Linked DNA regions of Homo sapiens: region 2 is linked to region 1. Evidence: fine-mapped expression QTL. A gene starts in region 1. The other region holds a variant in brackets. All regions are shown on one strand. Distances are from middle to middle.

Region 1 (5,374 bases):
TTCGGCCTACCCCAAGACAATGAGATATTCCTGACCTTTCCACCTATTTCCCTCCAACCCCACCTTCCGAAATACATTTGCTCAATACATTTGCACTTCATAGGCTTCTTTAGCTGTCTTCCTTTTACCCCGGACGGGATGTAGATGTTAATTCTGGAACAATTGCAGCTACAAGAATTTGTCATCCTGCCCCTTTTGAGAAAAACATTGTTTGCCCTTGGGTCTAAATCCTTCCAGATGGGATGGGATGTATCTTGTCACCTCCTTTTTCTTACTTAATATGAAAAGACCTTTCCTCATCAAGTCCACAGAGTGTAAATTTGTTTTTACCTTTTTTTTTTTTTTTTTGAGACGGTGTCTCACTCTGTCACCCAGGCTGGAATGCAGTGGTGCGATTTTGGCTCACTGCAACCTCCACCTCCTGGGTTCAAGTGATTCTCCTGCCTCGGCCTCCGTAGTAGCTGGGATTACAGGCGAAGCGCCACCATGACCGGCTAATTTTTTGTGTTTTTAGAAGAGATGGGGGCTTCACCATATTGACCAAGCTGGTCTCGAACTCCTGACCTCAAGTGATCCGCCTGCCTCAGCCTCCCAAAATGCTGGGATTACAGGCGTGAGCCACTGCACCTGGCCTGTATCATTCTTAAAAATTAAGTTTTAGCGGGGCATGATGGCTCACTGGTAATCCCAGCAGTTTGGGAGGCTGAAGGGGGAGGATTACTTGAGACCAGGAGTTTGAGAACAGCCGGGGCAACATAGCGAGACTCCATCTCTACAAAAAATTTAAAAATTAGCTGGGCGTGGTTGAGTGCACTTGTAGTCCCAGCTACTTGGGAGGCTGAGGCAGGAGGATCAGTTGAGCCCAGGAGGTTGAGGCTGCAGTGAGCCATGATCATGTGATCATGCCACTGCACTCTAGCCTGAGCCACAGAGTAAGACCCTCTCTGTGAAAATAATAATAAGCTGGGCGCGGTGGCTCACGCCTGTAATCCCAGCACTTTGGGAGGCTGAGGTGGGCGGATCAGGAGGTCAGGAGTTCGAGACCAGCCTGGCCAATATGGTGAAACCCCATCTCTACTATAAACAAAAATTAGCCGGGCGTGGTGGCGCGTGCCTGTAGTCCCAGCTACTCAGGAGGCTGAAGCAGGAGAATCGCTTGAACCCGGGAGGCGGAGGTTGCAGTGAGCCGAGATCGCGCCACTGTACTCTAGCCGGGGCAATGGAGTGAGACGCTGTCTCAAAAAAAAAAAAAAAGAAAATAATAATAATAATAATAATAATGTTCAGATGTATTTTTTAAAGTTTTTATTGTTTTTAAAAATAGAGGCACGGTCTTGCTATGTTGCACCACTGCACTCCAGCCCGGGCAACAAAGCCAGACTCCGTCTCAAAAAAAAAAAAAAAAAAGTGTGATACTAAGTCAATCAATTTGAAAATGCGGCTCTAGAGTATTGGAAAACAATCCCTTGACAGCGTTTCCATGAAAACATGGCCCTTGTCTCTGGAAGAGCTTGTGCCCAGAACGGTCCATTATCATGCCCTGGCTCTATTTTCACGCCAACCCTATAGGGTCTCTATGATCTCATTTTATAGATGGACAGACTGAGGCTCACATATAGCAAGCCCAAGGCGGGGACTGAATGTGACGCCAGGTCTGTGGACGTCATGACCTTTATTCTCCACAACCCTCAATGACATCCCTGTGAGATCCAAAACCAGGATGGCAAAACCCACGTTGCAGCAGAGGAAACTGAGGCTAAGGTCTCTTGGGTCCCAAACCAGGTCCTAAGTAGCCAAGTCCGCCTGGTGGCACAGCCCGGGTTTTATACATGGGGAAATTGGGCGGCGCATCTGGCGGAGGTCTCAGTGGTAGGAGGCGCCTGGAGGAAGCGCGGGTTCCTAACCCTAACGCTACCCCTAACATCCCTTCCACGCGCTCCGAGCGCTATGTGCCTTTAAGATCGGTGCGGGGGCGGGGCGTCCTGGGTAGGGCTGCAGGTGACGTCACTCCGGGCCTTGGGACTCGGAGAGCGTCTGGAGGCGGGGCCTGGACTTCACGCCCGGCGCGCTCCTCCCCTTTAAGGCGCGCGGCCGGGCGGGGCCCCTATGACCCCTTTAAGGCGCGGCCAGAGTCCTCCCGCAGAAAAACGACTTAAAGGAGACGCGTGGCGCGATGGCGGCGGCCCCACGCGCGGGCCGGCGGCGCGGGCAGCCGCTCCTGGCGCTGCTGCTTCTGCTGCTGGCGCCACTGCCGCCGGGGGCCCCGCCGGGCGCCGACGCCTACTTCCCCGAGGAGCGCTGGAGCCCGGAGTCGCCCCTGCAGGCGCCGCGCGTGCTCATCGCGCTGTTGGCGCGAAACGCGGCCCACGCGTTGCCCACCACGCTGGGCGCACTCGAGCGGCTGCGGCACCCGCGGGAGCGCACGGCGCTATGGTGAGTCGAGCCCGCTGTCCCCATCAGGCGGGTCACGCGAGCCCCTGCTTGCTGTCCCCATAGGGGTGGGTCCACGCGAGCCCCTGCCCGCTGTCCTCTTCTGGGCGGGTCCGCGCGTGCTTCCTGCTCGCTACCCCCATCGGGACGGTTCTACGCATGCCCCTGCCCGCTGCCCCCATCGGGACGGGTCCACGCGTGCCCCCTGCCTGCTGTCCTCCCATGGGGCCAGACACAGCCCTCCCCACAACACAAGCGGGACCGAGTTCCTCCTGCTGGCTCCTTTGGGGTGGGCTGGGCACCGCTTCTGCCTGCTGGACCCTACTAGGGCAGCTCCGGCCTCACTAACTGGGGCTCTAACTCCCTCTGGGGCACGTACACCTCCAAAGGACGGAGCCCAGAGCCCCCACTGGGGCGTTGCCAGAGGCCACATCTAACAGCAAGCCTTTCTGTGCCGGCTGCTGCCCTTAAGCTTGAACTCAGCCTGGCTCCAGGCCCCAGTCAAACCCCTGCCCTCAGACCGGCGTGGGTGGAGTCCAGGACCAGATGGCCCAGGAGGAAGTGGATGCTTTCTTGGTAGGGAATGGGGCAGAGCTCTGAAGAAACCTTTGACTGGTGACTTCTCACTCCCTGCCTCAGTTTTCTCAAATGGAAAATGGGTCCGGGTGCAGTGGCTCACGCAGTAATCCTAGCAATTTGGGAGGCCAAGGTAAGCGGGTCACTTGAGCTCAGGAGTTCGACACCAGCCTTGCCAACATGGCAAAACCCCGTCTCTAGAAAAAAAATACAAAAATTAGCCAGGTGCGGTGGTGTGTGCCTGTAGTCCCAGCTATTCAGGAGGCTGACGCAGGAGAATCGCTTGAGCCCAGGAGTTCGAGGCTGCAGTGACCTATGATTGCACCACTGCACTCCAGCCTGGGCTACAGAGTAAGACCTGCCTCTAAAAAAAGAAAAAGAAAAGAAAATGAGCGTATTAATATAATTCTCTTTTTGGGTTTGTCTCTGAAGATTATCCAGTTAATGGATGTGGAGCCCTTGGGTCTGGCATGGGCTTGGCTCTCAGTGATTTTATTATCATGATTACTGTCATTGCTGGTGTTATTGTCAACTTAATTTATTGGGCAGAATTAGCTTTTGGCACTACGGTCAAACTAAACTCCCAAATGTCGCTTTTCCTTCCACCTGATTTCTCAGTCTGGATAATCCAAATACACAATTGGTACTTAACAAATGTTTGTTGAATGAATAATTGACTGCAGCCCACTGAAGTGGTGTGGCTCACAGGAGAAGATGAAGGCAGGGTAAGGGATTTATGAGATATACTTTGAGATATACTTTTTTTTTTCTCTCAGACGGAATCTTGCTCTGTCGCCCAGGCTGGAGTACAGTGACACGATCTCAGCTCATTGCAACCTCCGCCTCCGGGTTCAAGTGATTCTCCTGCCTCAGCCTCCCGAGTAGCTTGGGATTACAGGTGCGCACCACCATGCCTGGCTAATTTTTGTATTTTTAATAGAGTCAGGGTTTCACCATTGTGGCCAGGCTTGTGTTGATCTCCTGACCTCATGATCTGCCTGCCTCGGCCTCCCTAAGTGCTGGGATTACAGGCATGAGCCACAGCGCCCTGCTGAGATATACTTTTTTTTTTGATACAGGGTTTTACATCTGTCGCCCAGGCGGGAGTGCAGTGGTGCAATCCTAGCTCACTGCAACTTCCCCCTCCTGGGCTCAAGTGATTCTCCTGCCTCAGCTTCTTGAGTAACTGGGACTACAGGCGTATGCCACTGCGCCCAGCTAATTTTTGTATTTTTTCTAGAGATGGGGTTTTGCCCTATTGGCCAGGCTGGTCTCGAACTCCCGAGCTCAAGTGACCTGCCCACCTCGGCCTCCCAACATATTGGGATTACAGGCGTGAGCCATTGCACCCAGCTGGTTTCTGATATATACATTTCATTTTTTAATATTTTTTATTTATTTATTTTTTGAGACTGAGTCTCGCTCTCGTTGCTGAGGCTGGAGTGCAGTGGCACGATCTCGGCTCACTGCAACCTCCTCCTCCCAGGTTCAAGCGATTCTCCTGCCTCGGCCTCCTGAGTAGCTGGGATTACAGGTGCCCGCCACCACACCCAGCTAATTTTTTGTGTTTTTAGTAGAGATGGGATTTCACCATGTTGGCCAGGCTAGGCTCAAACTCCTGGCCTCAAGTGATTCACCCGCCTCGGCCTCCCAAAGTGCTGGAATTACAAGCGTGAGCCACCATGCCCGGCCTAATTTTTGTATTTTTAGTAGAGATGGGGTTTCGCCATGTTGGCCAGGCTGGTCTCAAACTCCTGACCTCAGGTGATACACCCGCCTCGGCCTCTCAAAGTGCTGGGATGACAGGCGTGAGCCACCGTGCCTGGCCTGATCTATACATTACAAAAATTGCCGTGTGCGGTGGCTCATTCCTGTCATCCCAGCACTTTGGGAGGCTGAGGCAGGTGGATCACCTGAGGTCAGGAGTTCGAGAGCAGCCTGGCCAACATGGCGAAACCCCATCTCTACTAAAAATGCAAAAATTAGCTGGGCATGGTGGTGGGCACCTGTAATCCCAGCTACTCGGGAGGCTGAGGCAGGAGAATTGCTTGGACCTGGTAGGCGGAGATTGCAGTGAACCAAGATTGTGCCACTGCACTCTAGCCTGGGTGACAGAGCAAGACTCTGTCTCAAAAGAAAAAAAAAATTAAGTGACACATATTTGTTAGTGAATGTGGTTTGCAAGATCTTAGATGCTCAGTAATAAAACAGCCAATCACTAATGGGTCTTTCCAAAATCAGCTTGTTTAATCCTTCCACTTCCCAGTAAACTGGGTCCTGTTCCCACCCCCATGTTACAGATGAGGAAACTGACATGGAAAGGGAGAAATGGGCCGGGCGCGGTGGCTCACGCTTGTTAAGTCCAGCA
Region 2 (5,374 bases), 40 kb after region 1:
CAAGCTAAGCCATCATATCCCCTGTGACCTGCATGTACACATCCAGATGGCCGGTTCCTGCCTTAACTGATGACATTGTCTTGTGAAATTCCTTCTCCTGGCTCATCCTGGCTCAAAAGCTCCCCTACTGAGCACCTTGTGACCCCCACTCTGCCCGCCAGAGAACAACCCCCCTTTGACTGTAATTTTCCTTTATCTACCCAAATCCTATAAAATGGCCCCACCCTTATCTCCCTTCAAGGACTCTCTTTTCAGACTCAGCCCACCTGCACCCAGGTGATTAAAAGCTTTATTGCTCACACAAAGCCTGTTTGGTGGTCTCTTCACACAGACACGCATGAAATTTGGTGCCGTGACTCAGATCGGGGGACCTTCCTTGGGAGATCAATCCCCTGTCCTCCTGTTCTTTGTTCCATAAGAAAGATCCACCTACGACCTCGGGTCCTCAGACCGACCAGCCCAAGAAACATCTCACCAATTTCAAATCCAGTAAGCGGCCTATTTTCACTCTCTTCTCCAACCTCCCTCACTATCCCTCAACCTCTTTCTCCTTTCAATATTGGCGCCACACTTCAATCTCTCCCTTCTCTTAATTTCAATTCCTTTCATTTTCTGGTAAAGACAAAGGAGACATGTTTTATCTGTGGACCCAAAACTCTGGCACCGGTCACGGACTAGGAAGGCAGCCTTCCCTTGGTGTTTAATCATTGCAAGAACGCCTCTCTGATTATTCACCCACATTTCAGAGGTGTCAGACCATGCAGGGATGCTTGCCTTGGTCCTTCACCCTTAGCGGCAAGTCCCGCTTTTCTAAGGGGCAAGAATCCCCAATCCCTTATTTCCATGCCCCAACCTCTTATCTCTGTGCCTCGATCCCTTATTTCCATGCCCCGACCTCTTATCTCTGCGCCCCATCCCTTATTTCCGTGCCCTGACCTCTTATCTCTGTGCCCCAACCCCTTATTTTTGCACCCTGACCCCTTTCTGGCTTTTCTGGAAGGTAAGAACCCCCAAACCCCTTCCCTCTGTGTCTCTACTCTCTCTTTTCTCTGGGCTTGCCTCCTTCACTATAGGCAACCTTCCATGCTCCACTCCTCCATCTCCCTTAGCCTGTGCTCTCAAGAACTTAAAACCTCTTTGACTCACACCTGACCTAAAACCTAAATGCCTTGTTTTCTTCTGCAATGCTGCTTGACCCCAATACAAACTCAACAGTGGTTCCAAATAGCCAGAAAACGGCACTTTCAATTTTTCCATCCTGCAAGATCTAAATAATTCTTGTCGTAAAATAGGCAAACAGTCTGAGGTGCCTGACGTCCAGGCATTCTTTTACACATCGGTCCCTCCCTAGTCTCTGTGCCCAGTGCAACTCGTCCCAAGTCTTCCTTCTTTCCGTCTCTCCTGTCCCCTCAGTCCCATCCCCAAGCGTCCCTGAGTCTTTCTAATCTTCCTTTTCTACAGACCCATCTGACCTCTCCCCTCCTCCCCAGGCTGCTGCTCACCAGGCCGAGCTAGGTCCCAATTCTTCCTCAGCCTCCGCTCCTCCACCTTGTAATCTTTTTATCACCTCCCCTCCTCACACCCGGTCCAGTTTATAGTTTCATTCCGTGACTAGCCCTCCCCCACCTGCCCAGCAATTTCCTCTTAAAAAGGTGGCTGAAGCTAAAGGCATAGTCAAGGTTAATGCTCCTTTTTCTTTATCCGACCTCTCCCAAATCAGTTAGCATTTAGACTCTTTCATCAAACATGAAAAACCCAGCCCAGTTCGTGGCTCGTTCGGCAGCAACCCTGAGACGCTTTACAGCCCCAAACCCTAAGAGGTCAAAAGGCTGTCTTATTCTCAATATACATTTTATTACCCAATCCACTCCTGACATTAAATAAAACCCCAAAAATTAAACTCCGGCCCTCAAACCCCACAACAGGACTTAATTAACCTCACCTTCAAGGTGTACAATAATAAAGTAGAGGCAGCCAAGTAGCAATGTATTTCTGAGCTGCAGTTCCTTGCCTCCACTGTGAGACAAACCCCAGCCACATCTCCAGCACAAAAGAACTCCAAACGCCTGAACCGCAGTGGCCAGGGATTCCTCCAGAACCTCCTCCACCAGGAGCTTGCTACAAGTGCCGGAAATCTGGCCACTGGGCCAAGGAATGCCCGCAGCCCAGGATTCCTCCTAAGCCGTATCCCATCTGTGTGGGACCCCACTGAAAATCGGACTGTTCAACTCACCTGGCAGTCACTCCCAGAGCCCCTGGAACTCTGGCCCAAGGCTCTCTGACTCCTTCCCAGATCTTCTCGGCTTAGTGGCTGAAGACTGACACTGCCCGATCACCTCGGAAGCCCCCTAGACCATCACGGACACCGAGCTTCAGGTAACTCTCACTGTGGAGGGTAAGCCCATCCCCTTCTTAATCAATATGGAGGCTACTCACTCCACATTACCTTCTTTTCAAGGGCCTGTTTCCCTTGCCTCCATAACTGTTGTGGGTATTGATGGCCAAGCTTCTAAACCCCTTAAAACTCCCCGACTCTGGTGCCAACTTAAGACAATACTCTTTTATGCACTCCTTTTTAGTTATCCCCACCTGCTCAGTTCCCTTATTAGGCCGAGACACTTTAACTAAATTATCTGCTTCCCTGACTATTCCTAGGTGACAGCCACACCACATTGCCACCTTTTCCCCCAGTTCAAAGCCTCCTTCACATCCTCCCCTTGTATCTCCCCACCTTAACCCACAAGTATAAGACACCTCTACTCCCTCCTTAGCGACCGATCATGCACCCCTTACCATCCCATTAAAACCTAATCACCCTTACCCCGATCAATGCCAATATCCCATCCCACAGCACACTTTGAAAGGATTAAAACCTGTTATCATTCTCCTGTTACAGCATGGCCTTTTAAAGCCTATAAACCCTCCTTACCATTCCCTCATTTTACCTGTCCTAAAACCAGACGATGCTTACAGGTTAGTTCAGGATCTGCGCCTTATCAACCAAATTGTTTTGCCTATCCACCCCGTGGTGCCAAACCCATATACTCTCCTATCCTCAATACCTCCCTCTACAACCCATTATTCTGTTCTGG[A/G]TCTCAAACATGCTTTCTTTACTATTCCTTTGCACCCTTAATCCCAGCCTCTCTTCGCTCTCACTTGGACTGACCCTGACACCCATTAGGCTCAGCAAATTACCTAGGCTGTACTGCCGCAAGGCTTCACAGACAGCCCCCATTACTTCAATCAAGCCCAAATTTCATCCTCATCTGTTACCTATCTCGGCATAATTCTCATAAAAACACACGTGCTCTCCCTGCTGATCGTGTCTGATTAATCTCCCAAACCTCAATCCCTTACAAAACAACAACTTTCCTTCCTAGGCATGGTTAGTGCAGTCAGAATTCTTACACAAGAGCCAGGACCGCACCCTGTAGCGTTTCTGTCCAAACAACTTGACCTTACTGTTTTAGCCTAGCCCTCATGTCTGCGTGCAGCGGCTGCCACTGCTTTAATACATTTAGAGGCCCTAAAAATCACAAACTATACTTAACTCACTCTCTACATTTCTCATAACTTCCAAAATCTATTTGCTTCCTCATACCTGACGCATATGCTTTCTGCTCCCCGGCTCCTTCAGCTGTACTCACTCTTTGTTAAGTCCCACAATTACCATTGTTCCTGGCCCGGACTTCAATCTGGCCTCCCACATTATTCCTGATACCACACCTGACCTCCATGACTGTATCTCTCTGATCCACCTGACATTCACCCCATTTCCCGATATTTCCTTCTTTCCTTTTCCTCACCCTGATCACGCTTGATTTATTGATGGCAGTTCCACCAGGCCTAATCGCCACACACCAGCAAAGGCAGGCTATGCTATAGTACAAGCCACTAGTCCGCCTCTTAGAATCTCTCATTTCCTTTCCATCGTGGAAATCTGTCCTCAAGGAAATCACTTCTCAGTGTTCCATCTGCTATTCTACTACTCCTCAGGGATTATTCAGGCCCCCTCGCTTCCCTACACATCAAGCTCGAGGATTTGCCCCACTCAGGACTGGCAAATTAGCTTTACTCAACATGCCCCGAGTCAGATAACTAAAATACCTCTTAGTCTAGGTAGACACTTTCACTGGATAGGTAGAGGCCTTTCCTACAGGGTCTGAGAAGGCCACCGCTGTCATTTCTTCCCCTCTGTCAGACATAATTCCTCAGTTTAGCCTTCCCACCTCTATACAGTCTGATAACAGACCAGCCTTTATTAGTCAAATCAGCCAAGCAGTTTTTCAGGCTCTTGGTATTCAGTGAAATCTTTATATCCCTTACAGTCCTCCATCTTCAGGAAAAGTAGAACGGACTAAAGGTCTTTTAAAAACACACCTCACCAAGCTCAGCCACCAACTTAAAAAGGACGGACAATACTTTTACCACTTTCCCTTCTCAGAAGTCAGACCTGTCCTCAGAATGCTACAGGGTACAGCCCATTTGAGCTCCTGTATAGATGCTCCTTTTTCTTCACATGGACGCCCATGAAACCCGGGAGGTGGAGCTTGCAGTGAGCCGAAACCGCGCCACTGCACTCCGGCCTGGGTGACAGAGCAAGACTCCATCTCAAAAAAAAAAAAAAAAAAAAAGAATGGCTACTCCATAGACAGAGCAGCCCCAAGGCTGCTGGTTGCCCATTGTTATGGTTATTTCTTGATGATATGCTAAAGGAAGGGTAGATTATTCATGCCTTGCGTTTTTAGACCAAATAGGGTAACTTCCTGATGTTGCCATGGTATTTGTAAACTGTCATGGTGATGGGGGGAGTGTAGCAGTGAGGATGACCAGAGGTCACTCTTGTCGCCATCTTGGTTTTGGTGGGTTTGGGCCAGCTTCTATTATTGCTGTTGTTGTTGAGACGGAGTCTTGCTCTGTCGCCCAGGCTGCAGTGCAGTGGCGCGATCTCGGCTCTCTGCAAGCTCTGCCTCCTGGGTTCACGCCATTCTCCTGCCTCAGCCTCCCGAGTAGCTGGGACTACAGGCGCCCACCACCATGCCCGGCTAATTTTTTGTATTTTTAGTAGAGACGGGGTTTCCTTCCTTTTTTTTTTTTTTTTTTTGAGATGGAGTTTCACTCTTCTCACCCAGGCTGGAGTGCAATGGCAGGATCTCGGCTCACTGTAACCTCTGCCTCCCAGGTTCAAATGATTCTCCAGCCTCAGCCTCCCGAGTAGCCGGGATTACAAGCACTTGCCACCATGCCCGGCTAATTTTGTATTTTTAGTACAGACAGGGTTTCACCATGTTGGCCAGGCTGGTCTTGAACTCCTGACCTCAGGTGATCCACTCGCCTCAGCCTCCCAAAGTGCTAGGATTACAGGCGTGAGCCA

The links. PIP is the estimated chance that this variant, and not a neighbour inherited with it, causes the effect.
Region 2: its variant is the best candidate, but not a certain one, in a credible set for the expression of COLGALT1 in tibial nerve (GTEx, PIP 0.66).

What each region holds. Positions count from the first base shown.
Region 1 is chr19:17,553,541-17,558,914 of GRCh38, forward strand. COLGALT1 (collagen beta(1-O)galactosyltransferase 1) reads left to right here and starts at 2,109. Exons shown (of 12, transcript NM_024656.4): 1 at 2,109-2,433. The coding sequence starts at 2,174. NIBAN3 (niban apoptosis regulator 3) reads left to right here. Exons shown (of 15, transcript NM_001321827.2): 15 at 1-100. RefSeq lists a silencer at 2,187-2,276.
Region 2 is chr19:17,593,583-17,598,956 of GRCh38, forward strand. No RefSeq gene overlaps it. Among named protein-coding and RNA genes, the nearest start is that of COLGALT1, 41 kb to the left of the region's middle. RefSeq lists an enhancer at 4,951-5,374. The variant A/G (reference allele first, on the strand shown) is at 3,093.